Linked DNA regions of Homo sapiens. The protein of the gene in region 4 interacts with the protein of the main gene of each other region in a biochemical or structural test. Each region holds a gene or a part of one and is shown on either strand. Other genes may lie near its edges.

Region 1 (4,034 bases), on a different chromosome or scaffold from region 4:
GTTATCCCAATATTTTAAAATGTCTTAAAGCTGACTACTGAGCAGTATGTATATAATCCAGTTTTTAAAGTTTATTAAAAGTCTGTTGCCGGGCGCAGTGGCTCACGCCTGTAATCCCAGCACTTTGGGAGGCCGAGGCGGGTGGATCACGAGGTCAGGAAATCGAGACCATCCTGGCTAACACGGTGAAACCCTGTCTCTACTAAAAATACAAAAAATCAGCCAGGCATGGTGGTGGGCGCCTGTAGTCCCAGCTACTCGGTAGGCTGAGGCAGGAGAATGGCGTGAACCCAGGAGGCGGAGCTTGCAGTGAGCTGAGATTGCGCCACTGCGCTCCAGCCTGGGTGACAGAGCAAGACTCTGTCTCAAAGTCTGTGTGCCTTCTATCCAGAAAAGAGGTTAACATTAAGTGAATAGAAGATTACTTTTATTCTTTTTACTTAACATACTTTGTCTTTGGTCTACTATCTAAAATACTATTTGTACAAGATCTACAGGCTCCATGCACCCTGATATTTCAAAGCTTACATCTTGAAAGTAATTCCACTAAAATCATCTTTGAATAGGTAAAGTGATAAAGTATAATGATGCTAAGAGTAAGAATGTTTCCGTAATACAGGTTTGTCTTACCATTTCATACATGATATGAACTTTTATACACTGTAAAAACCTTACGCAGTTCAATCTACAAGCTACATCTATTTCAAATTTGAACGCTGCTTTTTTAAAAACTAAAATATTAAATAGCATTTCTGGTAACTGAAGGACATTCTTTTCCATTGATATTTAAAACTTTCTATTCCAAACATTTGTTTTATATGAAAACTCCCAAAGTCATCAACTTAGATTTGATGTTTCAGTGACATTTTAATATTATTAACTGCAAGTAACTTGAGTAAATATATACATAAAGCGGAAGACAAAAGGCTGTATAAGGATAAACACAAGTACCAGAATCAGCGGAGTCAATTTAACTTCCACTTCCCTCCTTGCTTCCTTAATGTCGGCCTGGTGGGAAGCAGAAGCAGATCGGCGGGCACTTTTAGGTGGTCGACCAGGGGATCGGGAGCGTGACCTTGATCGACTCCCTCGGCGTCTGGAAGGGGAACTGGAAGTTGAGCCACCTTTCCTTTGCCTAAAGGAAGTTAAAGGCTAGAAAGGGGGAAGAAGGCAAAGAGCTTTACCACAAATCATAACACATACAGACAGACCCACACTAGAAGAGGATAACAAAGGCAGGAACTGCTACCATTAACTCTAAAATCAGCACGGGAAATGTTAGGATCTGAGAATGGATCAGATGAAGCCAATGGAAAATGCTTTCATAATGATCCATCTTTCATGAGACAAATGCAGCCTTTCCATTCCTGTTCTTTGAAGGTATTTCCATGAAACGAATGTATCTAAACCAATTAGCTGTACTTATTTCCAACACCATATGCAAGAAGGGTAATAATTAACATGGATTAAAACTGAGACGACAGGACAAAATAAATAAGCACACAGACCAAAAAAAAAAAAACAGTACCACAGTTTCACTCTGAACAAAACACATAAGCAGATCTTGAAAATAAAACATGAGCTTGGATGACTGGGAACTGTTTCACTGTGTCCCCACCTACTCCGAATCTCCTTATGTTGCTTCTAGGGATGTAGACAAATTACGCCCCAGGCCAAGTCCCTCACCCCAATTTTTGTGTGGCCTTCCTACTAAGAATGGCTTTTACATTCTTAAATGATTACAAACAAAATCAAAAGAACAGTATTTCCTGAAGTGTGAAAATTATCCAAAATTCAAATTTCACTGTCCATAAAGTTGTACTGGAACACTGCCATGTCTGCTCCCTTCCATACTGCCTGGAGCCGCTCCCATAAAGTCTAAAATATTTACTTTCTGTGCTTTATTCCTGGTCTAGAGCACTCGAAGTGTCATCCTCAGCCATGGGTCCTAGAAATGCTCGTTACTAATCTGTGCAAGTACCAAAATTGAGAAATAGGTGTATGGAAATGTTTATAGCATTTTGACAAAGTAATCTCATATCTATCGAATCTGATAGTAAAACTGTGAGTCGTCTATTGTGTATGTCTTTATTTTTCTAGTAACTCATTTTTATGGCATTTTATATAAATGTTTGTATACTACGGATCAGATATCTTAAAACCCAGGCCCTCACCAGACAGGTTGAAAAGCCCTGGGCTAGACTCGAATCTAATTAATGTCACTCTCCTGATTAAATCCTTGGTGTTCAGGATGAAGCCCAAACCCTTGGGCATGGAATATAAAAGCCCCCCCAGCCTGGCTCCTGCTTAGCCCTCCCCTACCACCCCCTTCCAGCACTTGGCTGACTGTGTCCCCCAGACCCCTGACTTTGGCATACTGCCCTCTCTGCAGAAACAGCCCCATCAACTGCTGTTTTTCCTGTTTGTTCTCAGCACTTGGCTAGGTGTCACTGCCTCTGAAAGCCTCCCCTGAAGCCCAGGGCTCTTCTCTACCCTTGATACACTCAACACCACCCACAGCAAACTCCAGACACAGAACGTAGTAAACCCAGGGGACCAACAGATGCAAATGGCTGTCTTTCCCAGTAAGTGTGAGCTTCTTGGGAACAAGGACTATGCCTCATTCATACATTCCCAGAGCCAAAAACAGTATGTGACCCAAAGCAAGAGCTCAATCCTCTGCCTTCAAACCGAGCTGAACTGACTATCCTGAGCTTAGAAACCATACTTAGAGTTATTTCCCACTTACTGTAAACACACTCTGATAAACCAAAGGAGCTCTTACCTTAATATCATTCTCTTTCAATTCAAGCTCTGTTCCATCTTTATACTTCACAGTGTAAAGCTGGGAGGTGCTGTCGTGGCTCAGAATTTCTACTTCATAATAAAGTGAACTCCCAGGCCATCGACCTCTTACCACTTCACCATCGGCAAATTTCCTACTTGGCATTTTCTATAATTAACCTGAATAGTTTTAAAGAAAAAAATTTGAGTCAATACATACACATTTATGTATTCGTCTTTTTCCACAGGCTGATCACTAAAATACAACTTTCCAGAATTGACTGGTCAGGATTTTAGGGCCAGAAAGGCTACATTCAATCTCATTTGGAATCATTTGAGAGGATGATTTAGCCACTGCGTTATCTATGTGACACTAAAGATTAATTATAACAATGTATATAGGCGCCATAAGTTCACACTATGTAAAATGTTACCCACCTACCGTGATCACAGTTCTCGCTAATCAAAAAATGAGGCACAATCTCACAAAGAACACATTTTCTCATTTGTAAATTTGCGTATCAATTTACAATGGCTTTAAAAATGCATTTAATTGTATTTTTAACAAATTGCCTTTATTAAAAACAGCAAACTATAAACCAGACTGGGAAAATCAAGGATGTACAATTAACATGACTATAACCCAACAATAGGAAGAAAAATAATTCCAAGTCTGTAATGAATAAATTTGGGGGTTATTTAGCTTTCAACTCTTACAGCTAAAGTACAAATGCATACCAAGTAACTCTGCCAACCACCCACCTAAGCCAGGGTGGTTGCCTTCATCCAAGCTCACTTCTCTCAAGCCTACAGCAGCCATCAACCCCCAATTATAACATTCTTTTCCTCTGATTCAAAACATGGCCCACAAGCCCCACAATACTCTAGGAATCCACAAGCAATCTGCAAGAACTGCCACTTACGTGAGGCCTGTCTGCCACCCTTTTTGAAATATCAATTGATAGCTGGGTACTTCCAGCTGCCAGACAGTAATGCCGCTCCATCGGCTGACCAGCGGAATCACATTTCCACACAACAAAACCAGGGCTGCCGACCTTCCCCAGTACCACATGAACTAGCTGGGGCCACGTCCAAGGGGCAGCCAGTAGGACAGATATGAGCTGTCTCCCAAATCACCTTCATTTCACCAACTAAGCACTTCTTGATGTATTGTCCAAGCCTATCAATGTACATTCCTCACTGGCTCCTGTTAAGAGCTGATGATACAATAAAAGCAACATTTAGGAACC
Region 2 (4,034 bases), on a different chromosome or scaffold from region 4:
GGCACGTTCTCATAGCCCCGAGCCACGTCCCTGCAGAAGACGGGAAGAAGGGGCTGGGAAGCTGGAAAAGGGGGTGAGGAGCTACTCCAGGTATAAGGAAGAGAGTTGGGGAGGTTCCTGGGGCTGGGGGCAGGGGAGTAAGGTTGCCAGGTAAGATGCAGGACAGCGAGTTAACATAGAATTTTAGATAAACAAGAAATAGCTTTTTAGTATGTCCCAAAAATTACACAGGACATTCTCACACTAAAAAAGTATGCATCTGTGCATCTGAAATTCCAGTTTAACTGGGTGTCTTCTATTTTTATTTGCTGTATCTGGCAACCCTAGTGGGGAGGGGGCCTGTGGGTGGTTCTGGGGATTCAGTGGTGCATGGGGAGGGGTTGGGGAATGTTGTGAGGATGCAATGGAGCCTGGGGAGGGTATGGGTGGGGAGGAGGTGGTCTTGGGTGCAGAGAGGGGCCCAGGGCTCACCGGCAGATGATCTTCTCTGTGCGGATGGCCCGATTTCCCACCCCAAGTCGGAGCTTGCGGTTGAGTTGAAGCGCAAACCACACGTCGGAGCGCTCGGGAGTCAGGTCCCATGCTGTGTCCCCCTCTTTGTTCCGCAGCTCAGGGTTGGCCCCACGTGACAGGAATAACCTGAAGAGGGGACAGGATGCCCAATGCAGGGTCTGAGGCTGCAAGAAGTGGGGGCAGGGGCATCAAGGGCGGGGCAGGGGCTCACAGCACGCAGTCATGGTAGCTCTCCCGAGCTGCGATGTGCAGGGGGGTGTCCCCATGGTAGTTGACAGCATGGAGGTCACAGCGCGCATTCAGAAGGACTTCGGCGATGGCGGCGCTGCCCGTGAAGGAGGCCCAGTGCAGGCAGATGTTCTCCTCCTGTGGAGGTAGGAGGGGAACAGATGAGGTGCAGGCAGCTGGGCCCTTGAATCCAGCCTCCACCTTGCTCAGGGGCCTGGGGCTGCCCTACCTCAACCAAACGCTCACTCACGTTGTCAGTGAGGGTGACGTCGGCGCCCCGCGTCAGTAGCATGCGGATCACCTCGATGTGCTTGTGCTCTGCAGCCCAGATGATGGGCGTCCACCCCCCACTGTCCTGTGGGTGGGAAGGGAGTGAGGGTGGGGGCAGCTGGCCCTGCTCACCAAAGCAGCAAATGGTCAAGATTGGCTGTGTGTGTGAATCCCAGCTCCACCATTCACAAGCTGTGGGACCCTGGGTAAGTCACTTAACGTCTCTGGGTCGCAGTTTCTTCATCTAAAAAATGGGACTAGTAGGGTCGGGCGCGGTGGCTCATGCCTGTAATCCCAGCACTTTGGGAGGCCGAGGCGGGCGGATCACGAGGTCAGGAGATGGAGGCCATTGTGGCCAACACGGTGAAACCCTGTCTCTACTAAAAAATAGAAAAAATTAGCTGGGCGTGGTGGCAGGCGCCTGTAGTCCCAGCTACTAGGGAGGCTGAGGCAGAATGGCGTGAACCCGGGAGGCGGAGCTTGCAGTGAGCCAAGATCGTGCCACTGCACTCCAGCCTGGGCGACAGAGCAAGACTCCGTCTCAAAAAACAAACAAACAAAAATGGGACTAGTAGCGTCTACCATCTGATGCCAGAGAGAAAATAAAGTAATTGTTCTCTTTCCAAAAAATACAGCCAGGAGCTGGTCATGGAGGTGCATGCCTGTAGTCCCAGCTACTCATGTGACTGAGATGGGAGGGTTGCTTGAGCCCAGGATTTCGAGGCTGCAGAGAGCTATGACTGTCTGTGAACTGCTACTGTACTTCAGCCTGGGTGACATAGCAAGACCCTGTCTCTTAAAAGAAAAAACGAACAAAAATTTCCTAAGTCTGCCCACTCAAAAGTCCTAGAAGCAGCGACAACCCAATAACAATAAACACTCCTAGGAACATAGATTGTATTCTCTAAAAAATGCTTCTGGCCGGGCGCTGTGGCTCACGAGGTCAGGAGTTCAAGATCAGCCTGGCCAATATGGTGAAACCCCGTCTCTACTAAAAATACAAAAATTAGCCGGGCATGGTGGTGGGCGCCTGTAATCCCAGCTACTCGGGAGGCTGAGGCAGGAGAATGGCGTGAACCTGGGAGGCGGAGCTTGCAGTAAGCTGTGATCACGCCATTGCACTCCAGCCTGGGCAACAGAGTGAGACTCCGTCTCAAAAAAAAAAAAAAAAGTTTCCCATAAAGGAAGCAGAGTTTCTTAGAGAAATGGTGGATTCTGAGTTGGGGGCAGGAAATGTGCTGAAAGGTCAGGAGGCTCTCAAAGGCCACTGGGCCACTGGGTCATGTCACAGCCACAGAGGCCTCTTAAAGGGGCTTCTTCTGGACAATGATGGAATAATTCAAAGACTGAGAAGAATGCCAATAAATGACTAAAACACATCCAATGTATGACAACCCAAGAGTTAATAAAAAGCCTCACTGGACACTTTCAGAGATTAAGACAGGAACTGATTATTCTGAAACTTGATAAAGAGAAAGAAACGAGAAAGAAAAGAATGAAGAGAAATACAAATGAGGAAGAAGAAAGCAATGAGGACAGACACGAGCAGTGTGAGGTCAGATGTAGGAAAGGCGGCCCAAAGCCTGAGGCCAAGCCAAGGAACCCAGGCACCAGGGACCCAGAGGGGCTGGGCTGGGTGGGCCGCTGACCTGGGCGTTGACGTCCACCTGTCCTGTGCTCAGCAGCAGGCTGACCATCTCCAAGTTCCCGATTTTGGCTGCGTGGTGGAGGCAGGTGGAACCGTCCTCCTCCTGAGGGAGACACGGGCAAATGAGCCTTTGGGCTGGCACCCCAAACCTGGTCCCTGACTCCGGGGGCCACGCCCTGCTGCCTGCGCGCACACCTTGCTATAGACACAGCCACCACGCTGCACCATGTAACGGGCTACCTCCAGGTGGTTGTTCACCACGGCCTCCATCAGTGGCGTCCGCTGCTGTTTGTCCACTGCATTTATGTTGGCTCCAGCCTGTGAGGGGGCAGGAGGGCTGGCACCAGGGAGGCATGGGGCAGGGGAGGGGCCTAAGGGCCTGGTGAATGAGGCATGGGGCCGGGCCCGTGCTGACCTGCAGCAGCACATGGCAGATCTCCACGGAGCCCTTCTGGGCGGCTGCATGCAGGGGCGTGCGCTTGCTCTGCTGGTCGCTCTGGAAGTTGGGGTCCAGGTTGTCCACTGCGGGGAGAGCCCGCCACACCGGGAGAGGGAGGGACAAGTGGTAAGCAAGCTAGGGGGCAGGTGGCACTTCTTTCAGGAAGGCTTCTCAGGGCCCCAAGCTGGATCAGGGCCCCTCCTGGCATTCTCCGAGCTTGCCTCCACCACAGCATTTATCAGAATAAGGAGTCAAAGGCATCAGCTCTGCCTGAATTCAAACCCTGCCTTGCTTCTCAGTACCACTGTGCACTGTGCAAGGTCCCTAACCTCTCTGTGCAAGCCAAGGCTAACAGGTATAAGCACTCAGAACAGGACCCAGCACCTATGAGTCACCACATCCCCATCGTTATGGGTTACATGTGTCTTTTCCCCACCACACTAAGTCCTTCAGGGCAAGGACTGTGTCCTTCACGACTGTACTCCTGGCCCTGTACCCAGTGCCTGGTATATACATGAAGCTTGGTCAAGGTCTGCTGAAGGAATGGGTGGCACTCACACAGCATCAGGATCACCTTCTGCAGCTCGCCCTGCTTCACGGACAGGTACAACTGCCGAGGGTGGAAACGGAGCTTCTTCCGCCTGCCAAGGGAGCACGGGAGCGGGGAGAGAAGGGGAGCTCCTCAGATTCCAGCATCAGCCTCGACACCACTCCTCTGGCCTCAGCCCCAGTTGCTGTGCCTGAGCAACTCCCCACTCACCTCTCTGACTCCTGGATGACCAGGGCCTTTTCCAGGGCCTCCCGGCCTGGCCCCAGTGGCAGCCCCACGGCTGAAAGGCAGCCCCCATTGGGCAGGGTCAGGGAGGGCCCTGAGCTGTCAATGGTGTCAGCCAGGGGATCGCAGGGCGGGCGCCGGGGTTCCCCATGCCCTCGCAT
Region 3 (3,667 bases), on a different chromosome or scaffold from region 4:
TCCTGCAGTTCATCTAGAGGACTTTTCCAGGAAACCCAGCAAACAGTAGGATCTCAGCCACACGAAATCATTTAGTTAAGTAGCTACAGTTTACTTTATGGAGTCGCCGTTTGCCATGTTAATTCTTGATGACAGCCCAGGATGTGGGCTGCAGACTGAACCCACTTCCTTCACCAGACTGACCACCGAGCACGGCTCTCCCTCCCTCCTCAGCCTCTCAAGATGGTAGATGCACCCACCTGCAAACTTTTCTCTCCGACAGAAAGGCCTCTTCTTCAGGACTAACTGACCTACCGCAGGCTACTGCCCCTGGAACTTGCCAGCAAATTCACTCCCGGGATCCATGTCAAATCAGGGTTGCCAGAGGAAAGTCAGGGCATGTATTTTCATCTGCTGACTTGGGGCAGCCCTGGGTCAAATCCCCATCCCTCAACTCAGCACCTCTGTTGCAACAAAGCAGGCACAGCTGCGGTTGCAGGTAGTTCTCGAGATACAGCAGGCCATTCCTGCAGGACTAAAAGCAGCTGCGATGACTTATTGGCCAAGAGAGAAAATGACCATCCAGCCAAGTCCTTGTAGAAATGAAAATGGAACGTAATGAACCAGTCTCTCTTACACTGGCCTGTCTGCCCCACCCACACTTAGTTTCTTTCCCCACTCTCCCTATAATAAAAATACCATGGGTTTTAAGACCATTTCATCACATACTTTATTGGACATCTCCTGTGGCTGGTCACTGGGATAGAGTAACCAGGAAATGCAGTCGGCCCTCATGAATGAACAAAACTTACAACCCCAGGAGGGGAGCCAGAAACTCAATTAGTGGCTTAGTTTCCACAACACTACGTGCTACAAAGAGGTACAGAACAATTCCAGGCAAACTAAGAACCTGCCCCAGCCTGGAGGACAGGCATGGGGGTGAGGGAACCCACAGGCAAGAAGCCTCCCTTAAGCTGAGCTCAGGACTGGATGAAATGATCTTGGTGGGGCAGGAGGGAAAGTTCCAGGCAGGGAAAACAGCAGGGAGTGTGTGGTGGTTGGAGGTGCCTGCCTAAGGGAGGCAGGAGATGGTAGGTACAGAGTTAGTGTAAGAAAGCCCAAGAGAGGCTGGGGGACCAGATCCCACAGGCCCTGGGAGGCGAAAAAGTAAAAACAGCTTGTATTTAATGGGAATGTCCTATTACATGGAAATTCACTTGGAAACTGAAGCTCAGAGAAGTTACCATACCATGGTGGAAATGGGTGGGTATTTGTTCTCAAATCCAGTCAGCCTAGGGGAATGGGCAGTATTTGTCAGATCTCTCCCTCCCCCAGTACCAAGGAGGGTTGTGTAGAAGTGGTGTTCATCTATTAAACACGGGGGTAGCCCTTAAATGAACATTTTTAACCCATCATCAACAGCCCTGTAAAATGAAAACCACCCTTAGCGTGCTCTTGAAATACTGTACTTACCAGGGTGAGAAAAGGTGCTGACATACTTCAGCAAGATTTCTGGTTAGAGCTGAACTCTAAAGGATTTTTCTACTAAACAGAATATTCCACTCCACAGGCATATGGCTGGATGAAATTTTTCTATGTGAGGTTCATAATTACTACTAAGTCTAAAGTGTTAGAACAACTTGATCATAGCAACATTCCTACTGAAAGTTTTGAGGTTGGCCTACGTAGAAGGAAGCATTTATGCCTCACACCTTCCAAAGTGCCTCTGCTAAGAGCCACTCTTCCTTGAACACCCTCCCCTGTTCTGCCCTGGTGCAATCCCTGTACCCTTTGCAGCCCTGTGAAGCCCTCAGATGTCCCCTCCCTGCCCCTTTCTATTCCCTCCCTCAAGCAGAATGTCATTCTCCCTTACGATCATGGATGACGCTGTGAGAACCCTATCATGGCAGCCAATATAGTACAAGTCAGTACCGCTGATTTCTGCATTCATTCAGCAAGTATTTATGATGTCACCTGGCTCCCCGCCAGACACTGGGGAAACAAACGTGGAGACAGGGCACTGCCCGCACAGGGCACATTTTGGGGGACAGCTACCCTGTCTGGTGCACCATCCTCACCTGCACCTGGCAAGGTGGGTGAATGGGGAGGAATCCAGACAGGTGACCTGGGGGATGGCGGGCTATTCTCTGATTTGGGGAACACAGAGAGGACAGGGGGCAAAGTGGAAAGTAAATGAAGATGAACGAGTTATATCTACAAGTCTGAAGCTGGAGAAAGATGTCTGGGCTTCAAAGGAGATTTCGGAGGCAGCGGCTCACAAGGAAGCGATCCTGAAATCGTGGCTGAAGGTGCTGAGTGCTCAGTCTCTCCAAGGATGATGATGCTTTACAGAGTACTGGTGTCACTTCCTGTACTGGGTGGCATCGGGCTGCCAGATAGAGTCAGAAAGAAAACAGGCGGGAGCAGAGCCAGTAAACTTCCGAAGCTTTCAATGACAGGAAAGCTGGAGATTAGGAGCCAGTTTGAGGTCGTGATGGCCCACAGCCTGGGACCCTGAGATTCCGCGGGTGGAGAATGTCTCAGGTGAGAGCAACCCTAGTTAGAAAAGTATTCCCAAGAGACCAAGGCAAGCCACGAGTCACTCCTTACAGAAAGTCACTCTTGGTCCCTAAAGATGTGCTCACGAGTCATTCTCCAAAGCACAAAACTTTATTTTCAGAAAGGAAAGGACATCAAAAATAGGACTGTCCTGTGCAGATGTCCAATAGCCTTAATTTGGGGACCAAATGCCCCCGGCCATTGGAAAGACAGATCTTGTAAGCTCCATTCATCCGTGCGCTCATCCATTCATTCGTGTTTACCGAGTGCCTGCTCAGTGTTGGGACAGACGAGGATAGTTGTTCCTGCCACCGTGCCCTGGAGGACATAGGCAAACAAACGACGACACAGTGTGGCAAGTGTCACAGTTAAGGCTGCTGTAGGGTGGCTGTGGGTGGTGACAGACCTCAAGGCTTCATTCTGCAAAGCTGAGGGCAAACCTTGGCCCAGACTCCTTCACAAAGCCCCCGGTGTTCAACTATTCTCAGTCCAGGAGCCCAGCAGTGCTCCCAGTGGAGTTTATGAAGCCGATTCAGACCCAGCAAATCCAAAGTTTTCTTCCCTTAAGCAGACTGACAGCCTTACTTACAGAATTCACTTGTAATTTATGACAAAAACTGCACTAGAACTTATCACAAAACTAACTTTATTATATTTTTCCCAGTTCGATTTTTCTGTCAAATATCTTCACTGTCCCTATGACTTCTGGTTCTTATTTTCTTGACACACACATTGTCCTCAGCCTGTGTGGGAAGAAAAAAAATAGAACTCTTAAGTAATTTAAACACCCATTTTTAGAATCGACCTCCTCTGCAAAACCCCAAAGGCTTACTAGGTATTATGCAGGTCCTTAGTTGCAGAAAATTAATTTTGAGGTTGGAAATAAGTTTTAAAATATATTCCATTAACATTGTTTTTCTTGACTTGAACTGCTTTTATTATGCAGTTTTTTTACACTTAAATAATGTGATCTTTTCATACAGAAGTTCCTAATGCATTTTTAAGCTAATTCATAATAAAATTTCTTCATCGATGCACACATTTTCACAAACTAAAAAATGTCACTCAGAAAAAGTGAATCCAACCAGGATTAAGTCTTTTGGGTCTCCTAAACCAAGGAACCCCTGTA
Region 4 (4,034 bases):
CACCCCCCAGCCTGCCTCCGCCAGAGACAGGGTCTTGCTTTGTTGCCCAGACGAGAGTGCAGTAGTGGAATCATAGCTCACTGAAGATTCCAACTCCCGACTCAAGCGATCCTCCACCTCAGCCCAAGTAGCTGGGACTACAGGCATGCACCACCATGCCCAGCTAACTTAAAACACACACTTTTTTTTTTTTTTTAATAGAGAAGGGGTCTCATTTTGTTGGCCAGGCTGGTCTTGAATTCCTGGTGTCAAGTGATCCTCCAGCCTTGGACCCCCAAAGTGCTGGAATTACAGGTGTGAGCCACTGCACCCAGGCCCTATATTCTAATTTGCTACCCTGAGACTCCAAATTAGTAAACCCAAATTACTGGGTAGAGGACAATAAAAGTCTCTGCTCTGTAGTATTATTTTCATTAAAGTCTTCTTTGGCCTGGCACGGTGGCTCACACCTGTAATCCCAGCACTTTGGGAGGCCAAGGCAGGTGGATCACTTGAGGTCAGGAGTTTGGGATCAGCCTGACCAACATGGTGAAACCCGGTCTCTGCTAAAATACAAAAATTAGCCGGGCATAGTGGCAGGCGCCTGTAGTCCCAGCTACTCAGGAGGCTGAGGCAGGAAAATCGCCTCAACTCGGAAGGCAGAGGTTGCAGTGAGCTGAGATCACGCCACTGCACTCCAGCCTGGGCAACAGGGTGAGACTCCATCTCAAAACAAAACAAAAAAAAGTCTTTTACATTACCTGTTACACTGCACATGGGAAGTACGCTATAATCATGCTAGTGGCCTTAAGTTTTGGGAGAAGAGGGAGGAGCCCATTCATTTCCTAATGTTTTGATGGGTAAAAATAATTTTTCATGTTTCATGGGCTTAATAAAGAAGGGACTTACGACACATACTTAATTTAAACTAAGAATACTGAAGGATAAAACAGGCAAACGTAAATCTCCCATTCAATTCATAATTCCCAAACTGCTATGAATTAAATGTGAAGAGCAGGGGAAGTAGGAGATAACAGATAGGTGAAGCCCAATCATTCGACTATCATATGCTCCATCTCCAGCGTGCTCAGGAAATTGATCTCCACCTATCCATTTTTAATTGTCACTGCCTATGGAGCTTTGTGGTGTAAGGGGGAAGAATCAAAGCAGATAAGCACAACAAACCCCAAGCGTTAAAGTATGTAATTGTTGCATGTTCAAGTTATTCACATTTTGTGAATAACATTATCAAGAATAATGAGAGCAATCCATATCAAAGAACACAAGGAACCAGAGAGCTTAAAACATGCCCAGGTTCTACTTCTTAGGTATAAGGATATAATAAACCTAGTATAAAGCCTAGATTATATGTAATCCTGTATGAGACCCACTAGTCTATATTGTAAAGCTTCAATGTTTTTAGCACCCTCTGTGTGGAGGAAAATAATGCAGATTATTCTAATTAGTGTAATATCTAACCACATTAAAATATATTACATAGTAAACTACACTCCATAATTTTATAAATTTGACTCCCCAGGGTAATAAACTAGTCTCTAGTCTGCTCACCTTCAACTGTACAATAAAGTCTTGGTTCTTTTGAAATAGACCTCAAATGAGACACCTAAAATTCAAAGTGTCTTTACATTTAAAGACACCTACAGGAAAGCAGGTAAAAGAGCCAGGTTAAAAACAAATTCTAAAACCACTTAGCTGCAGTTAAACATATAGTAAAGATGCACTAAAGTTTCTTACTCTGTAAATCCCTTCCACTTCAGGAAATATTCCACTTTCCCATTCACTACACGTCGATCTAGTACTTTTTCCACGACAAATTCTTCAGGCTCTGCCTCTTCAACTTTTTTACTCTTTCCATTCTGTTTTTTTCCCATTTTTTGCTAAAATAAAACAAAAGAGAAATTAAGAAATATTCCTCTTGAATTTTGAGCACATTTTCAAGGCTCAATTGCTTATATTATTATCACATTCGACATAAATTTTTACTTCTATATCCCAGGGCAGACACCTTCTGGAAAGATTAAAAGTCAACAGACAATAAAATAAAAGAATGCTTTATCTTGTTCATTTAGTTCAAACTTACAACCCACCACCAAAATAATACAATAAAAAAACACTATCTGGAAACAGTTATTTTTTTCCAGTCTTTTTTTTTGAGACAGGGTCTCACACTCTTGTCGCCCAGGCTGGAGTGCAGTGGCGTGATCTCAGCTCACTGCAACCTCCGCCTCCCCAGGTTCAAGCAGTTCTCATGCCTCAGCCTCCAGAGTAGCTGGGATTATAGGCGGATGCCACCATGCCGGGCTAATTTTTTTTGTGTTTTTATTAGAAACAGGGTTTCACCATGTTGACCAGGCTGGTCTCAAACTCCTGACCTGAAGTGATTCACCAGCCTGGGCCTCCCAAAGTGCTGGCATTACAGGCGTGAGCCACTGCGCCCGGCCCTGTAGTCTTAAAAGACCAAGTTTACTAATTTTCACTCATTTTAACAACACTGCAACAAACAACTATGCAGGAAGTACCTAAAGGGTGATACAGAGAAGCAAGTAGTAGTGACAGGTCTTAGGTGAACCTATGACAGACCTTGTATCCACCCCCAGATGGTAAAAGCCCCAGCCCCCTTCTCAATTCAAATATTAATGTCAAAAGCATCAATGATACAGAGAAAAGATAAATGCAGAATGAAAACATGGTTCAAAATCCTGATACCAACTGCAGGGTCAACTATAGAGACCACTAGGAGGTTCAATTAAAGGACAAGATTATTTTTCCATAATCTCTGTAGATAATATTTCCTACCACTTAGAACAAAACTATAAAGCTATCACTTCAAGAGACCAACATTACAAATTTATTTTAATTCCCTAAGGTGAAAAAAATCCTTCCTTCCTGGTTTCTCAAGAGAAAGTCTATACTGGTAACCAAATTCACTTTAAACAGGCATTTTCTTTGGTATGACACTATTTAAGAGAAGCAGGAAACCAACGTGAACCAGCTCTTTCCAATGGCTCAAGATTTCCTATGAGAGGACTAAAAATGGGGAAAATTTTTATGAGAGGATTAAAAATGGGGGAAAAAAAACCCTGAAATGGTTAATCAGAAGATCCTATGGGCTGAGAAGGAATCCATCTTAACATTTCATCTTAAAGCAAATGCTATTGCCGGGGGCAGTGGCTCATGCCTGTAATCCCAGCACTTTGGGAGGCCGAGGTGGGCAGATCATCTGAGGTCAGGAGTTTGAGACCAGCCTGACCAACATGGAGAAACCCCGTTTCTACTAAAAATACAAAATTAGCCAGGCATAGTGGTGCATGCCTGTAATCCCAGCTACTTGGGAGGCTGAGGCAGGAGAACTGCTTGAACCCAGGAGGCTTAAGTTGCGGTGAGCCAAGATCACGCCATTGCACTCTAGCCTGGACAACAAGAGAAAAACTCTGTCTCAAAAAAACACAAAAACAAAAAACCCAAATACTATTTAAAAAAGATAAACCTTAATTGCTCAATCATTAAAGCCATCCCACAAGTAAAGCAGCAAGCAGAAAAAAGTTAAGAACACCTCAAGGCTACAGAAGGACATTTCAAGCTATGCAGGCATATGAAGTGTGCAGACAGATATGTAAGAAAGGCCTCAAGACTGCAAAAGGGCATTTCAAGCTATGCAAGCATATAGGTAACACATACACACACACAAAATAAAAATCCCCTGAAATACAAAAACATGCAGCAAACACCTGACGTTTTTGGATACCATTTCTAAGTCAGGTGTTATGATTCTCATTAGTCAAGATACTTGAGTACTGGGCCCAAACAGCTTTCTGCCACTGTACAGTACAAGAAGGTAGGAATAATGGTGGGAGGAGCAAAGACAAACTGTAATAGACAGAAGTGTATCAGATACCTATACTACATGAAAAACAAAACAGCTACTGCCACAAAGGGAGAAGGCTAACAAAATAAAGTCAACAATAAATACAGAAAATGAAAAGGATACACACTAAGGTTTACAAAAAAAAAAAGGCAGACAAAATGCCATACAG
Region 5 (4,034 bases), about 110 Mb from region 4:
ACCAGTGGAAGTAAACCCTCACGCCGCGTCTGTCGCTCGGTAAGGCACTAGGAGGGAAGGATGCAGTGTCAAGACTGCGCCAGCTAGGGTGGCGGCGCCGAGGGCCACGCGGGGAGGGCGGCGCGTGCACACCCACACGTGCTCGCTCACCCGCACACCTGCACCGCCACATTGGTTACATGCCTATGTTATATCGCTTTTTTTTGTGCAATTACATTGAGGAATATTCTATTGGTATCATTGGAGTTGAACACAAGGTAGGAGACAAGGGTGCTGAGTGCTACATTCTACTAGGGTGTCTGTGACGACCGCTAGCCCTACGCTACGCGACTAGGGGTGGATTCAAAGAGAAAATACATTTTCAGAAAAGAAAAAAACCTAAAGTTTGCAACACACATTATTAATGACATTTGAGAAACAACGTTGCTTAGGGATTTATCCAGAGTGCTCAGAAAAAGAAAACTCGCCCCGCGCCCCCGGGGGCCTTCCAGCAGCCTGGCCGTCCCCCGTCTTTCCTGACTAGGGAGCCCGGACTGGGCTTCGCCAATCCCACACCAGCTCCAAACATCAGCCTCCTCAGGCTGCAGCCCGACATTCTGGAGGGCTGTTGACCCTTTCGAGTTCTGGAAAAATCCCTAAATCTTATGTTCAATTAATTAAAAATCTATTTGATTTCCATATCAGGTGTCCCTGACAGCAGTCTTCCGTATCACTTGCTGCCATATGAAAATAATCTTTGAAAAGTTCATAAAGTTCTTCAAAAACTGGGGCCCCCCGTTTCTGGAATCTTCCTGTTGCTCTCTTCTCCTTTCCAGTTTGGCGTAGAATGGGTTCTTGAGCTGGGTTTTTTGTTATTGACTTTTTTTTTTTCCTTTTTCTTTTTTAAAATAAAAACCATAGATTTCCCACCCTCTTTAATCCCTTCCTTTTAAAAATGTTCTCTTCTCTGCTCTACGTCCTCCCACTTCCCGGTTCAAGTTTCACTGGTGTCCCGACCCGTCCCCCTGCCCTCTGCCCCCCCCCCCCCCCCCGCCCCTGCCCCGTTTGCATTGTTTGTGTGCGGCATCTTCAGTATAAAAGGCCAGCGCCCACGGTCCCAGGAGCGCCTCCCTCCTTCTCTCCCTCCTCCCTCGGGCCATTCTCTCCCTCCCTCCCTCCCTCCCTCCCCTCCAGTGTTTATATGTAAGGGTACTGGTTGACCTTGGCGGGGCTCAGTGGGTATCCAGTGTAGACGGTGGAGGCTGGCGAGGCGCTGATGTAGGTCTGGTGGGCAAATTGGGCTGGATACTGACTCGGGTGGATGGTGGGCGAGGGCAGGACCCGGGGGCCCATGCTCACGGGGACCTGGTGGACGATGCTGGCTGGGTAGGCAGTGTGCTGCACGGTGTGGCGCGCAGAGCCTTGCGAGGCCACCAGGTGGGCCACGGTGCCGGTGGAGCCCAGGGCCGCCGGCGCAGTGTAGGTGTAGAGGTGGGGCTGGGTGGGGAGGTGGGCAGCGGCAGCGGCTGCAGCCAGATGCGGGTGCACAGTGCCGTGGCTGGGGCTGTTGTGCGGGAAGGAGTACGGAGCCTGGGCCATGGTGGGAGTGATGTAGGCCTGCTGCCTTCGGTGGCTCCCAGTGCGGTCCGTGGTGATGTGCTGCTGAGCCTGGGGAGGAGAGGCACCAAGAGAGACGTCAGGGGCCGACACATGGGGAGGAAGGAATGGGAGGAGGGGCAGGAGGGCAGGGAGGAGGAAGAGAAGGGAAAGACTCCAGAAGTAATAGAAGGGGCTTCCCTCTGTGTGTTGAGAAAGTAAAAATTTACTTGGGACCTGGCGCAGTGGCTCACGCCTGTAATCTCAGCACTTTGGGAGGCAGAGGTGGGCGGATCACCTGAGGTCTAGAGTTCGAGACCAGCCTGGCCAATATGGTGAAACCCCGTCTCTACTAAAATACAAAAAAATTAGCCGGGCATGGTGGCACGTGCCTTGTCTGTAGTCCCAGCTATTCGGTGGGCTGAGGCACAAGAATCACTTGAACCTGGGAGGTAGAGGTTGCAGTGAGCTGAGATCACGCGAGTGCACTCCAGCCTGGGTGACAGAGTGAAACTCTGTCTCAAAAAAAAAAAAAAAATTTACTTGGACTGAGAAAATCCCGACTTGGCCTGCCACTCACTGGGCTGGGATGATACACGGATAAAGCCAGCTGCAAAGTTATAGGAGAACATATTTCTCCCAAGGACGTACAGAAGCTGTGAAGTATCAGGATGCCCCAGGCTGGAGTGCAGTGGCATGAACCTAGCTCACTGTAGCCTTGAACTCCTGGCCTAGAATGATCCCCCCGCCTTGGGCTCCCGAGAAGCTGGGACTACAGGCGTGAGCCACCGCACCCGGCCAGGACACTCTCTTTGAGCAGCAGTTGCTTTCTTACTCACTGTAAAATCTTGTTCTCAAAATTATTGGCTCTCACAACATCTCTACAAAAAATTTTGAAAATTAGCTGGGTGTGGTGGCTCATGCCTGTAGTCTCAGCTACTCGGGAGGCTAAGGTGGAGGATTACTTGAGTCCAGGAGGCAGAGGCTGCAGTGAGAGCCATGACAGTGCCACTGCACTTGAGCCTGGGTGACAGAACAAGACCCTGTCTTAAAAAAAAAAAGTTGGCTCTCAGAAGCGTTGCTGTTTGAAGTTCTGTCAGTCCAAATAAAATAGCCCTCTTCTACCTGGTGAACCTAAGTCACGTGACAGAGACACGGGCTCCACTGATGACCTGGGGCAGCACTTCAGATGAGGGGCTCTGAACACAAACACCCCATTTATCTCACTTTGTTTCTAGAGAAACAGGGCCCTGAGTCCACCACGTGAGTCAGGCCTGATGCCGAGCCCTTGACACAGACAGCCCTGCACCCACAGAAACTCAGGTCACTCACATTTCACCTCAACCCACCCCCCTTCCTCCAGGTCCTGGGACAAATCTTACCCTTGACTTGGGGGCTGTGGTGTGCGGGCCCTCCCTGCAATGAGTCGGATGCAGGTCTGTCCCTGATGTCCCAGGCCGACAGGGCCGGGACACAGTGCTCTACCCTTTGCTGGGTTGAAACAGCAGTATGTGGGCCATCCTATTTTTAAGCTCTGGCACCATGTCACTAAGGGCTTTGTAACATTAGACAAGTCGCTTTGCTTTGGGCCAGCACTCTGTGCACTGGTGATATCAACTTCCCCAAGGGTGACCTGTGGTAGAAAAAGCCACCAGAGGTCACCAAGGGCATGTGCTGCCACCCGTGGCCAGGACTGCAGCCCTGTGAGGTGGGTGAGGGGCCGCCACAGCAATCCTCTCTGAAGCGGAAGGATGAGGGGATGGGGGCCCTGCCTGGCCTGGGGCGCCAGCTGTGGGGCTTACCTGGCTGAGATTGAGTGGCTGCTGCTGCTGGAAGTGGGGGCCCGGCCGCTGCTGCCGGTAGGTGATGGCTCCAGATGAGCTCCCTGAAGAGTGACCGCTGGTGGAGGTCACGTTGCTGGAGGACTTGGACTTGTAGGAGGACGAGTGGTGACTGGTGTTGACTGTGGCGGGAGGAGAAAGAGGTCAGATCAGTGGCAGGGTCCCAGCTGCCCAGAAGATGCTACCCCACCAGAGAACAGTGGTCTTCCAGGAAGAAACATGTGCCTGAGGCCGGGCAGTAACAAATCAGCCTCATCTCCCCCGGACCCACTAGGACTTTGCCTTGACTCTGGATGCAGTGGGGCTCTGGCTCACTCCCTCGGCTGGGAGGGTGGTCGGGGCTGCATGAGGGAATGAAGCAAGGGAAAGCGGAAAAGAATCAGGAGAGGCAAGGTGGGCTGGTGGCCTAAGGCCAGGCCCAGTGCCGTTCCTCTGGGAGGTGTTACTTTCAGCATCTGGAAAATGGGTAGGAGAGATCTGCTATAATTTGAATGTGTTCCCCAAAGTTCTTGTGTTAGAAACTTAGTCCCCAGTGCAAGTGTTTAGGGTGGGGCCAGTAAGGGATGTTAGGTCCTGAGGGCAGAGCCCTCATGAGTGTATGAGTTCATCAGTGCATTA
Region 6 (4,034 bases), on a different chromosome or scaffold from region 4:
ACTGGAATGTTTATCCTGTGCCCGTCTCACCACTATATATGTGTGTGTGTGTGTGTGTGTGTGTGTGTGTGTCTCTGTGTGTGTGTTTTGTTTTTTTTTTTTTAAGACTGAGTCTCACCCTGTTGCCCAGGGTGGAGTGCAGTGGCATGATCTCAGCTCACTGCAGACTCCGCCTGCCGGGTTCAAATGATTCTCCTGCCTCAGCCTCCCAAGTAGCTGGGATTATAGGTGCTCACCACCACGCCTGGCTGCTTTTTGTATTTTTGGTAGAGATGAGGTTTAACCGTATTGGCCAGGCTGGTCTCAAACTCCTGACCTCAGGTAATCTGCCTGCCTCGGCCTCCCAAGGTGCTGGGATTACAGGTGTGAGCCACTGCGCCGGCCTCACCACTATTTGGAAGGCACATAACTTGTTTCATTTCACAGGTTCACAGCTGGAGAGAATTTTGTGTCAGGTAGAATTGTGCCTTGAGTTTCAACCGTAACTGATTTAGATGATATTTAAATGAGATGTTGGACTCCGGACTTTTGAGTTGATGCTGGAATGAATTAAGACTTTGAGGGTTATTGGGATAGAATGAATTTGTTTGGCATGTGAAAAGGATATGAATTTGGGGGAACCAGGGGCAGAATGCTATGGTTTCAGTGTTTATATCTCCCCAAAATTTGTGTTGAAATTGTAATCCCCAAGATGATGGTATTAGGAAGTGGAGACTTTTGGGGAGATGATCTGGTAACAAGGGCAAAGTCCTCATGAGTGGGATTAGTCCCTCCTAAAAGAGGCCCCAGAGAACTCCCTTGCCCTCTCCATCATGTAAGGACACAGAAGACACCTGTCTTTTGACCAAGAAGTGGGCCCTCACCAGGCACCCAGCCTGCTGGCACCTTGATCTTGGACGTCCAGCCTCCAGAACTGTGAGGAACAGATTTCTGTTGTATAGAAACTGCCCGTCCTACAGCGTTGTGTTGTCACAGCCTCAGTGGACTAAGACTGAGACACCTAGCTCGTCCCGGACTGAGGCATCCCTGTTCTCCTGTGCTTTCAGAGTCGGGTTTCTCCATTCAAGGACATGATTTTATGCTTCTCTGAAGAGGATTGGTCCCTTCTAGATCCTGCCCAGACTGGCTTCTATGGAGAGTTCATCATTGGGGAGGATTACGGGGTCTCAATGCCTCCAAGTAAGACTTAACTTCCCCCCACACCTCAAGACCAGGGAACTGGGCAGGGGAGTTCTCACTTGGAGTAAGAGTCAACTTCGTCCCATAGGATCAGGGAAGCGGGGCCTGCATCAGATCTCTCTGTTCACCCCCAACCTGGACAGGAGGTCATTTGCACACAGCGGCCCTACAGGCAGTGTGTCCGATTGACCATCACCTGCTGTCTCGCCACATCAGGCTTATCAGAACCAAATAGAACATGTGCTGTATGTCCATTTCTCTTCCATCGTTCTTACCGTTTTGTCCCTTTATGTCTGCTTTACACCCGAAAGCCTCAGAGAGACCCCCAAGCCCATAGCTCTCCCTGCGTGTGCTGCCCCCACTGCCCCTGCACTGCCAGCTCTGGCCTTTTCACTTCTCGCCCCTGATGGTGCCATGCCCGCTGGGCATCCCTCCGCCTTCTCTCTTCTGGACCAGCCCTGGTTGCTGCAGGATCAGATTACTAATAAACATGTACCCTGCCTTTTTCTTTGAACAGACGACCTAGCTGCCCAGCCAGATCTCTCCCAGGGAGAGGAGAATGAGCCACGCGTTCCAGAGTTGCAGGATCTCCAGGGCAAAGAAGTGCCCCAGGTCTCCTACTTGGGTGAGTAATGATTCCAGAACTGAGTGGACAGAGTAGGGGGAAGGGTTGCTGGCAGCCGGAGGTGAGCCCACTCTCTGGCTTCTCTCTGCGGCCCCTAATTGCCTTCTTCATTTCCCCAGACTCTATGTGGGTCTTGCATGTCTTGCCTTGTCCCTGACTTTTCATAGAAAGAATGGAGGATCTTAATTTTGCCAGGCATTGGAATTGTACTCCCTTGGCCAAGGACTGGGAAATAATAGGAATGTCTTTCTCCTCTGCCTGTAAGTAACATCTGGTTTGTGCTGACAATGCAGCAGCCCCTCCAGGAGTGAAGTCAGATACTCATGACAAGCCTAGTTGCAGAGGGAGTGTCTCCTAACTGGGCACCGAGCGCAGCCCTTTGAGGTGCCTCACCTGTCTAGTCTTCCCATCTGCCTGGTACAGGGGTGCTGTGAGGACACTGGGGTGTGGGGAGGTGCTGGGGCTCAGCAGCAGCAGTTTCCAGCCCTCCTTCAGGCTGTGTCGCCAGCACTTGCACCCATGATCTCCATGCCATGGTGCTTCGAAGCATCTGCTCCTTCAGGAGGAAATAGCTTTGTACAGAATCATCAGCAGCTCCACACCTTCTTCCCCTTTGGGACCTAGAGCTGGCATGAAGCAGACAAGGTTTTGACACACCATCCCCACCTGGAACAAGCGTTCAGAGACTTGGTGTGGTGCAGTAGCTCCTGTACCATCTCTACCCTGTAGGCTCTGCACAAGCTGTTTGTGCAGGATGTGCGGAGTGTGCAGGAGCCTGTGGTGATGACTATAGAAAACCCACCACAGAAAGTGGGAATAAATATGGGGCTGGGGGAAGTGCTTGTCTCTGGCCATAGAGTGGGTGGAGTAGAACCCGGATCTACGTCGATTCTGTCTAGCGTCAGAGCTCATGTTTGTGGAGTTGGCCCATTTTGCCTTCAGGTTCATTCACTCAGCAGACACTTATTGAGTGGCCACCCCCTGCCAGTCCCCAGGACGGAGCCCAGGGCCGCCCCCAGATCGTAGCCTGGCATCTATTCGGATAGCACCCTCCCAGGTAGTGCTGTAGGTGCAAAACAAATCAATTTTTCCATTTCCTCCTCTGGAAAGACTCTCCAAGTCTCCAGCCATTCCAGGTAGAAGAAAGAAGGAAACGTGAGGAGCTGCAGGTGCCAGAGTTCCAGGCCTGCCCACAGACGGTGGTGCCTCAAAACACCTACCCAGGTAAAGAAGGGTCAGGGAGGTATGGGTTTGTCCCTGTGTGTCTGTGGTGTGTCGCATGAATGTATGTATGCATGTGTGGCATAGGGGATGGTTGTGTTGAATGCATGTGTGCGTGCATACACATGTGGTATATGTGGTGTGCTGCATGTGTGAGTGTGTGCATTCATGGGTGCACCTGTGTGTTGGGGGCATGTGGGTGTGTGATGTAAATGTGCGGTGGTGATGGCATGGGACAGTTAGGAACTGAACCCCTCAGGATCCCCGCCGACCTCTGCTGTGGTGTTCTTAGCTGCTTGCCCTGATTCCGTTGTGCTGGGGTCATTCTCCAGCTCACTCCCAATCCCAGGCTCACCCTCCTTGCCTTTCCCAGGGGCCGGGGAGGGTGTGTCAAAGCAGGGTGCTGCTGTAGTGCTGTTGGTGATGCAGTGAGTGTTTTTCTTCTCTCAGCATGGATGGCCAGCATCCTGGCACAGAATCTTGGAACTGGGATTAAAGAGCAGGTTTCTGGCATACTGAAGCTGCACAGGACTCTTGGAAAGTGTATGTTCCATTCCTGCTTTCAGAGAAATAGCCACAGTGTAGACTCTGAGTCGTCTTGGTAAAAGTCACCACTTCCAGAAGCAGAGGCTACAATACTGCCATCTTTCTCTTCTCAATACAAAACCCAAGCCTCTGATTCTTACCTGAACCCACGTGTCATTGTAGTTTTCTGCAGCTATGGAGACCAACTCACACATATTATCTCTTCTACCTGTGATGCTTTTGAAGGCAAGATTTATGCCATTTTGACCCAGCTCCATGCATCTTGTACTTGGCCCCCTTTCATGCATGGACAAAGGGGCTTTTCTAGTGTGGGAGATCTGAAAGGATGAGATCCTGCTCCACAAGCATGGATGCCCACCCCTGGTTTTCTAAGAAGCCCACCTCTGCGTGCCAAGAGTGATGCATTCATTTGGGGTCCACTTGGAGTTCAAGCGCAGGCCTGATGTTTGTGGTGCACTTTGAA
Region 7 (4,034 bases), on a different chromosome or scaffold from region 4:
TAGCTTTAGAAAATTTGGCAAAAGCTATTCTCAGGCTATAACAATACTGAAATTTTAAAAAAATGATCAGTCATGCTAATTCATAGATTAACTGTATTTTTATGATTTTATTGTGACTCTTGTTACTTTTAATAATGTTAAGCATTAAAAAAATTCCCAAGAATGCATTGAATTTTCAAAATAATTCATGTAGGTAAATTGCTTTGCCATCTTACATGTGTGACATATCTCTTAACATGCATATACCAATTTCCTTTGAGTTCTCTTTTGTACATATTTCTCCTTTGACAGAAAAGAAAAACTTTTTCAGAAATTAGCAATATTAATTTATTAAAATAATTATATATATACTTTTGCCTCTCCTGAGAAATGCAGAAGCTGTGACATAATTTTAAAATGCTGGATTTCCTTTTGTTAGAATTAACATATTTGGGTCACTTATGCAGGTGAAATGCACAGTTATTTTTATATGAGCACTATTGAAAAAATACTATTCTAGATACATTAAAACTAACAAATGTCTAAAACACTAATTATTAAATTCTGACTATACTTTTAAAATATTAGTCTTTATGATTGATATTTATGATATTTAATTTGGTATTTGTAAAGCAAAAATGTCCTTTAATCCTGGTGAGGAAATACATTACAGAGTTTTCTCAACACTGCTACTTGTCAACCCTTTCAGTATTTTAAAACCTGCCTTTAGTTGTCTTTATTTGAATCAGATTGTGGGTTGCCAGTTTTGAGCCAAAGACATCGATCGTCTGAGTGTATGCTCTATGTAATTCAGTTTTTTTTTTTGGTAATGACCAAGTTGAAGTTTTACATGGTTTTAAGTTGGGCATAACTCCATTTATTATTTATTTATTTTTTATTAATACTATTCTTTAAAATTGATGCACATGAAAAAATTTCTTCCTAGGGTTCTGCGTATACCTCAGAAAGCTCTAAGATTGAAAGCTGAAATGTCATGACCTGAAAACTACTGATTCTTTCCCCTTTAAGAAAAGAATTTGGAAACTAGTGTTTATTCCATAACGTTACCTTCAAGTTATCCTGAAAGACACACATGACATACGCTTTTATTTAACTCTACTAATCTTTTTACTATTTTCTCTTTCCCTTTTTTTATGTATCTCTTCCTTTCACTATCAATGTCCATTTCATCTCCCCCAAAGCAAATTTTTACATACTGTGGCTAATATAGGTATTTGTTGTTAATGTGGTTGATCTTGTAATGTGTTACTTTCCCTGATGAAACCCAGAGCAGTTTCAGAGGCCTCAAATTCTGAGATCTTCCTAAGTTCAAAATAGATTGCTGGTAGAAAAGCATTGACATTAACCATGAAAATATATATTTGTGTATTGTTCCCACTTCTATAGACATATATTACTTTTCAAAATGTCAGCTCAAGGACCAGAAATTTTTTCTGAGGAGAAAGAGAAAGCATTGCCTTTACAAAAGTTTCCCTGATCATTCCATTTCATAGCATTTGTACAGTTTTTTACTTGTATCTCTTGATAAAATAATTTGTTCCTATATTCGTCAGCCATACTCAACCATCAGCTCTGTGAAAGCAAAGAGATTTTGTATTATCTTCATCTGTATGTCTATAACATCATCACAGTGCTGCTCCTGTTTTAGGTATTCAATATATATTTGTTGTTTAGTTAGAATTGAGCCATGTGGTATTTCTTAAAGGTATGTTTTTAAATCTAAGATTAGTGAATGGCAAGTACATTTCTCTTAATTTCAAAATATAATTTTCTTAGGTAGAGCTGTGTCCTTGAGGGCTTCTTGCTTTGGGGGTAGGAATATTTTATTTACATATATCCCTAACAATACATACATAACTTTATAAAGATAAAGAAAAATTTAAAGTTCCTTTTTAAGCTGTTAATGAGGATCGTGAAGTACAGGAAGGGTTTTTTGTTCTGATTCCTTAGGCAGTATAATTGGAGTAAGATACTGGAGTATTGCAAGAAGTGAAATATCTAAATACTTTCTTGTTTTAATCTTTGGATTTATTGCAGTTTTAATTTTTTTTTTGCCAATTTAAGTATTATATATAATCAGATAAGTTAAATAATGAGAAATACGTTACAGCACATAAAAAATGCTATTCAGGGTCAGCAAAGCCTGAGTCCTGTCCTCTCGCTCTCCTCCCTGGACAGCATGAGCTTCACCACTTGCTCCACCTTCTCCACCAACTACTGGTTCCTGGGCTCTGTCCAGCCACCCAGCTATGGTGCCTGACTGGTCAGCAGTGCAGCCAGCGTCTATGCAGGCGCCAGGGGCTCTGGTTCGCGGATCTCCGTGTCCTGTTCCACCAGCTTCCGCGGCGGCTTGGGGTCCAGGGGCCTGGCCAAGTGGATGGCCCAGGGTCTGGCAGGAATGGGAGGCATCCAGAACAAGGAGACCCTCCAAAGCCTGAACAACCACCTGGCCTCCTACCTGGACAGAGTGAGGAGCCTAGAGACCAAGAACCAGAGACTGGAGAGCAACACCCGGGAGCACCTGGAGAAGAAGGGACCCCAGGTCAGAGACTGGGGCCATTACTTCAAGACCATCGAGGATCTGAGGGCTCAGATCTTTGCAAATACTGTGGACAATGCCTGCATTGTTCTGCAGATTGACAATGCCTACCTTGCTGCTGATGGCTTTAGAGTCAAGTGTGAGACAGAGCTGGCCATGTGCCAGTCTGTAGAGAACGACATCCGTGGGCTCTGCAAGGTCATTGATGACACCAGTGTCACTTGGCTGTAGCTAGAGACAGACATCGAGGCTCTCAGGGAGGAGCTGCTCTTAATGAAGGAGAACCACGAAGAGGAAGTAAAAGGCCTACAAGCCCAGCTCACCAGCTCTGGGTTGACCGTGAAGGTAGATGCTCCCAAATCTCAGGACCTCGCCAAGATCATGGCAGACATACAGGCCCAATACGACGAGCTAGCTCAGAAGAACCAAGAGGAGCTAGACAAGTACTGGTCTCAGCAGATTGAGGAGAGCACCACAGTGGTCACCACTCAGTCCGCGCAGGTCGGAGCTGCTGAGATGACACTCACGGAGCTGAGACATACGGTCCAGTCCTTGGAGATCCATCTGGACTTGATAAGAAATCTGAAGGCCAGCTTCTGGAGAACAGCCTGAGGGAGGTGGAGACCTGCTATGCCCTGCAGGTAGAGCAGCTCAACAGAATCCTGCTGCACCTGGAGTCAGAGCTGGCACAGACCCAGGCAGAGGGGCAGCACCAGGCCCAGGAGTACGAGACCATGCTGAACATCAAGGTCAAGCTGGAGGCTGAGAGCGCCACCTGCCACCGCCTGCTTGAAGATGGCAAGAACTTCAGTCTTGATGATGCCCTGGACAGCAGCAACTCCATGCAAACTATCCAAAAGACCACCACCCGCTGGATAGTGGATGGCAGAGTGGTGTCTGAGACCAGTGACACCAAAGTTCTGAGACATTAAGTCAGCAGAAGCAGGGTACCCTTTGGGGAGCAGGAGGCCCATAAAATGTTCAGAGGTCATTGGGGGAAAATAGGCTATTCAGTTAAAATAGTTATCTGATGACTGAAATTTTTTTAATATGTCAGGTGTATTGAGGTATAATTTATACAGTAAAACTCAGTCTTTTGGGTGTGCAGTTTGATGAGTTTTGACAAACATACACAGTCTTAAAACCACCACCACAATCAGAATATTTCCATTACCCCCAAAAGTTCCCATGTATCCCTTTGTAATCAGTTTCCTGCTCCTACTGCAGCCCGAGGCAACTAGATCTGGTTTCTGTCTCTATAGTTTTTCCTTTTCTAGAACATAAAAATGGAATCATATATAGCCTTTTATGTCTTTTTTTTAAATTTAGCAGAAAGCTTCTGAGATTCATTCATGTTCTATGTATCAGTAGTTTGTCAATGACTGAAGTTTAAAATTGTTAACTTTGGTGAAGCTCTTACGAAAGAGTATTATCAAAAAATAGTACTTTGAACAGTGGTAGATATTTCTCTCAGATTTTGGCAGCTGCCTTATTA

The links.
Region 1: the proteins of CBX3 (region 4) and LBR form a complex in vitro, tested with the Homo sapiens proteins (one study listed by BioGRID and IntAct).
Region 2: the proteins of CBX3 (region 4) and EHMT2 are reported together in a solved structure, tested with the Homo sapiens proteins (2 studies listed by BioGRID, with this or other methods).
Region 3: the proteins of CBX3 (region 4) and MKI67 form a complex in vitro, tested with the Homo sapiens proteins (one study listed by BioGRID).
Region 5: of the proteins of CBX3 (region 4) and HIPK2, one has a biochemical effect on the other in vitro, tested with the Homo sapiens proteins (one study listed by BioGRID).
Region 6: the proteins of CBX3 (region 4) and ZNF496 form a complex in vitro, tested with the Homo sapiens proteins (one study listed by BioGRID).
Region 7: the proteins of CBX3 (region 4) and NIPBL form a complex in vitro, tested with the Homo sapiens proteins (one study listed by BioGRID).

What each region holds. Positions count from the first base shown.
Region 1 is NC_000001.11:225,421,126-225,425,159, forward strand, and holds part of LBR (delta(14)-sterol reductase LBR), read right to left. Parts: intron 2,965-4,034; 5' UTR 2,951-2,964; coding exon 2,786-2,950; intron 1,153-2,785; coding exon 952-1,152; intron 1-951. UniProt on the Homo sapiens protein: Catalyzes the reduction of the C14-unsaturated bond of lanosterol, as part of the metabolic pathway leading to cholesterol biosynthesis.
Region 2 is NC_000006.12:31,883,921-31,887,954, forward strand, and holds part of EHMT2 (histone-lysine N-methyltransferase EHMT2), read right to left. Parts: coding exon 3,859-4,034; intron 3,740-3,858; coding exon 3,657-3,739; intron 3,182-3,656; coding exon 3,075-3,181; intron 2,978-3,074; coding exon 2,855-2,977; intron 2,763-2,854; coding exon 2,661-2,762; intron 1,136-2,660; coding exon of another isoform or gene 1,097-1,135; coding exon 992-1,096; coding exon of another isoform or gene 971-991; intron 880-970; coding exon 725-879; intron 640-724; coding exon 472-639; intron 285-471; exon of another isoform or gene 31-284; coding exon 1-30. UniProt on the Homo sapiens protein: Histone methyltransferase that specifically mono- and dimethylates 'Lys-9' of histone H3 (H3K9me1 and H3K9me2, respectively) in euchromatin.
Region 3 is NC_000010.11:128,095,975-128,099,641, forward strand, and holds the end of MKI67 (proliferation marker protein Ki-67), read right to left. Parts: intron 3,282-3,667; coding exon 3,216-3,281; 3' UTR 685-3,215; downstream 1-684. UniProt on the Homo sapiens protein: Protein that associates with the surface of mitotic chromosomes and acts both as a chromosome repellent during early mitosis and chromosome attractant during late mitosis.
Region 4 is NC_000007.14:26,204,211-26,208,244, reverse strand, and holds part of CBX3 (chromobox protein homolog 3), read right to left. Parts: intron 1,878-4,034; coding exon 1,735-1,877; intron 1-1,734.
Region 5 is NC_000007.14:139,571,751-139,575,784, forward strand, and holds part of HIPK2 (homeodomain-interacting protein kinase 2), read right to left. Parts: intron 3,539-4,034; coding exon 3,378-3,538; intron 1,648-3,377; coding exon 1,177-1,647; 3' UTR 1-1,176.
Region 6 is NC_000001.11:247,307,469-247,311,502, reverse strand, and holds part of ZNF496 (zinc finger protein 496), read left to right. Parts: intron 1-1,046; coding exon 1,047-1,179; intron 1,180-1,696; coding exon 1,697-1,804; intron 1,805-2,914; coding exon 2,915-3,028; intron 3,029-3,475; coding exon of another isoform or gene 3,476-3,630; exon of another isoform or gene 3,631-4,034. UniProt on the Homo sapiens protein: DNA-binding transcription factor that can both act as an activator and a repressor.
Region 7 is NC_000005.10:36,883,027-36,887,060, forward strand, and holds part of NIPBL (nipped-B-like protein), read left to right. Parts: intron 1-4,034. UniProt on the Homo sapiens protein: Plays an important role in the loading of the cohesin complex on to DNA. Forms a heterodimeric complex (also known as cohesin loading complex) with MAU2/SCC4 which mediates the loading of the cohesin complex onto chromatin.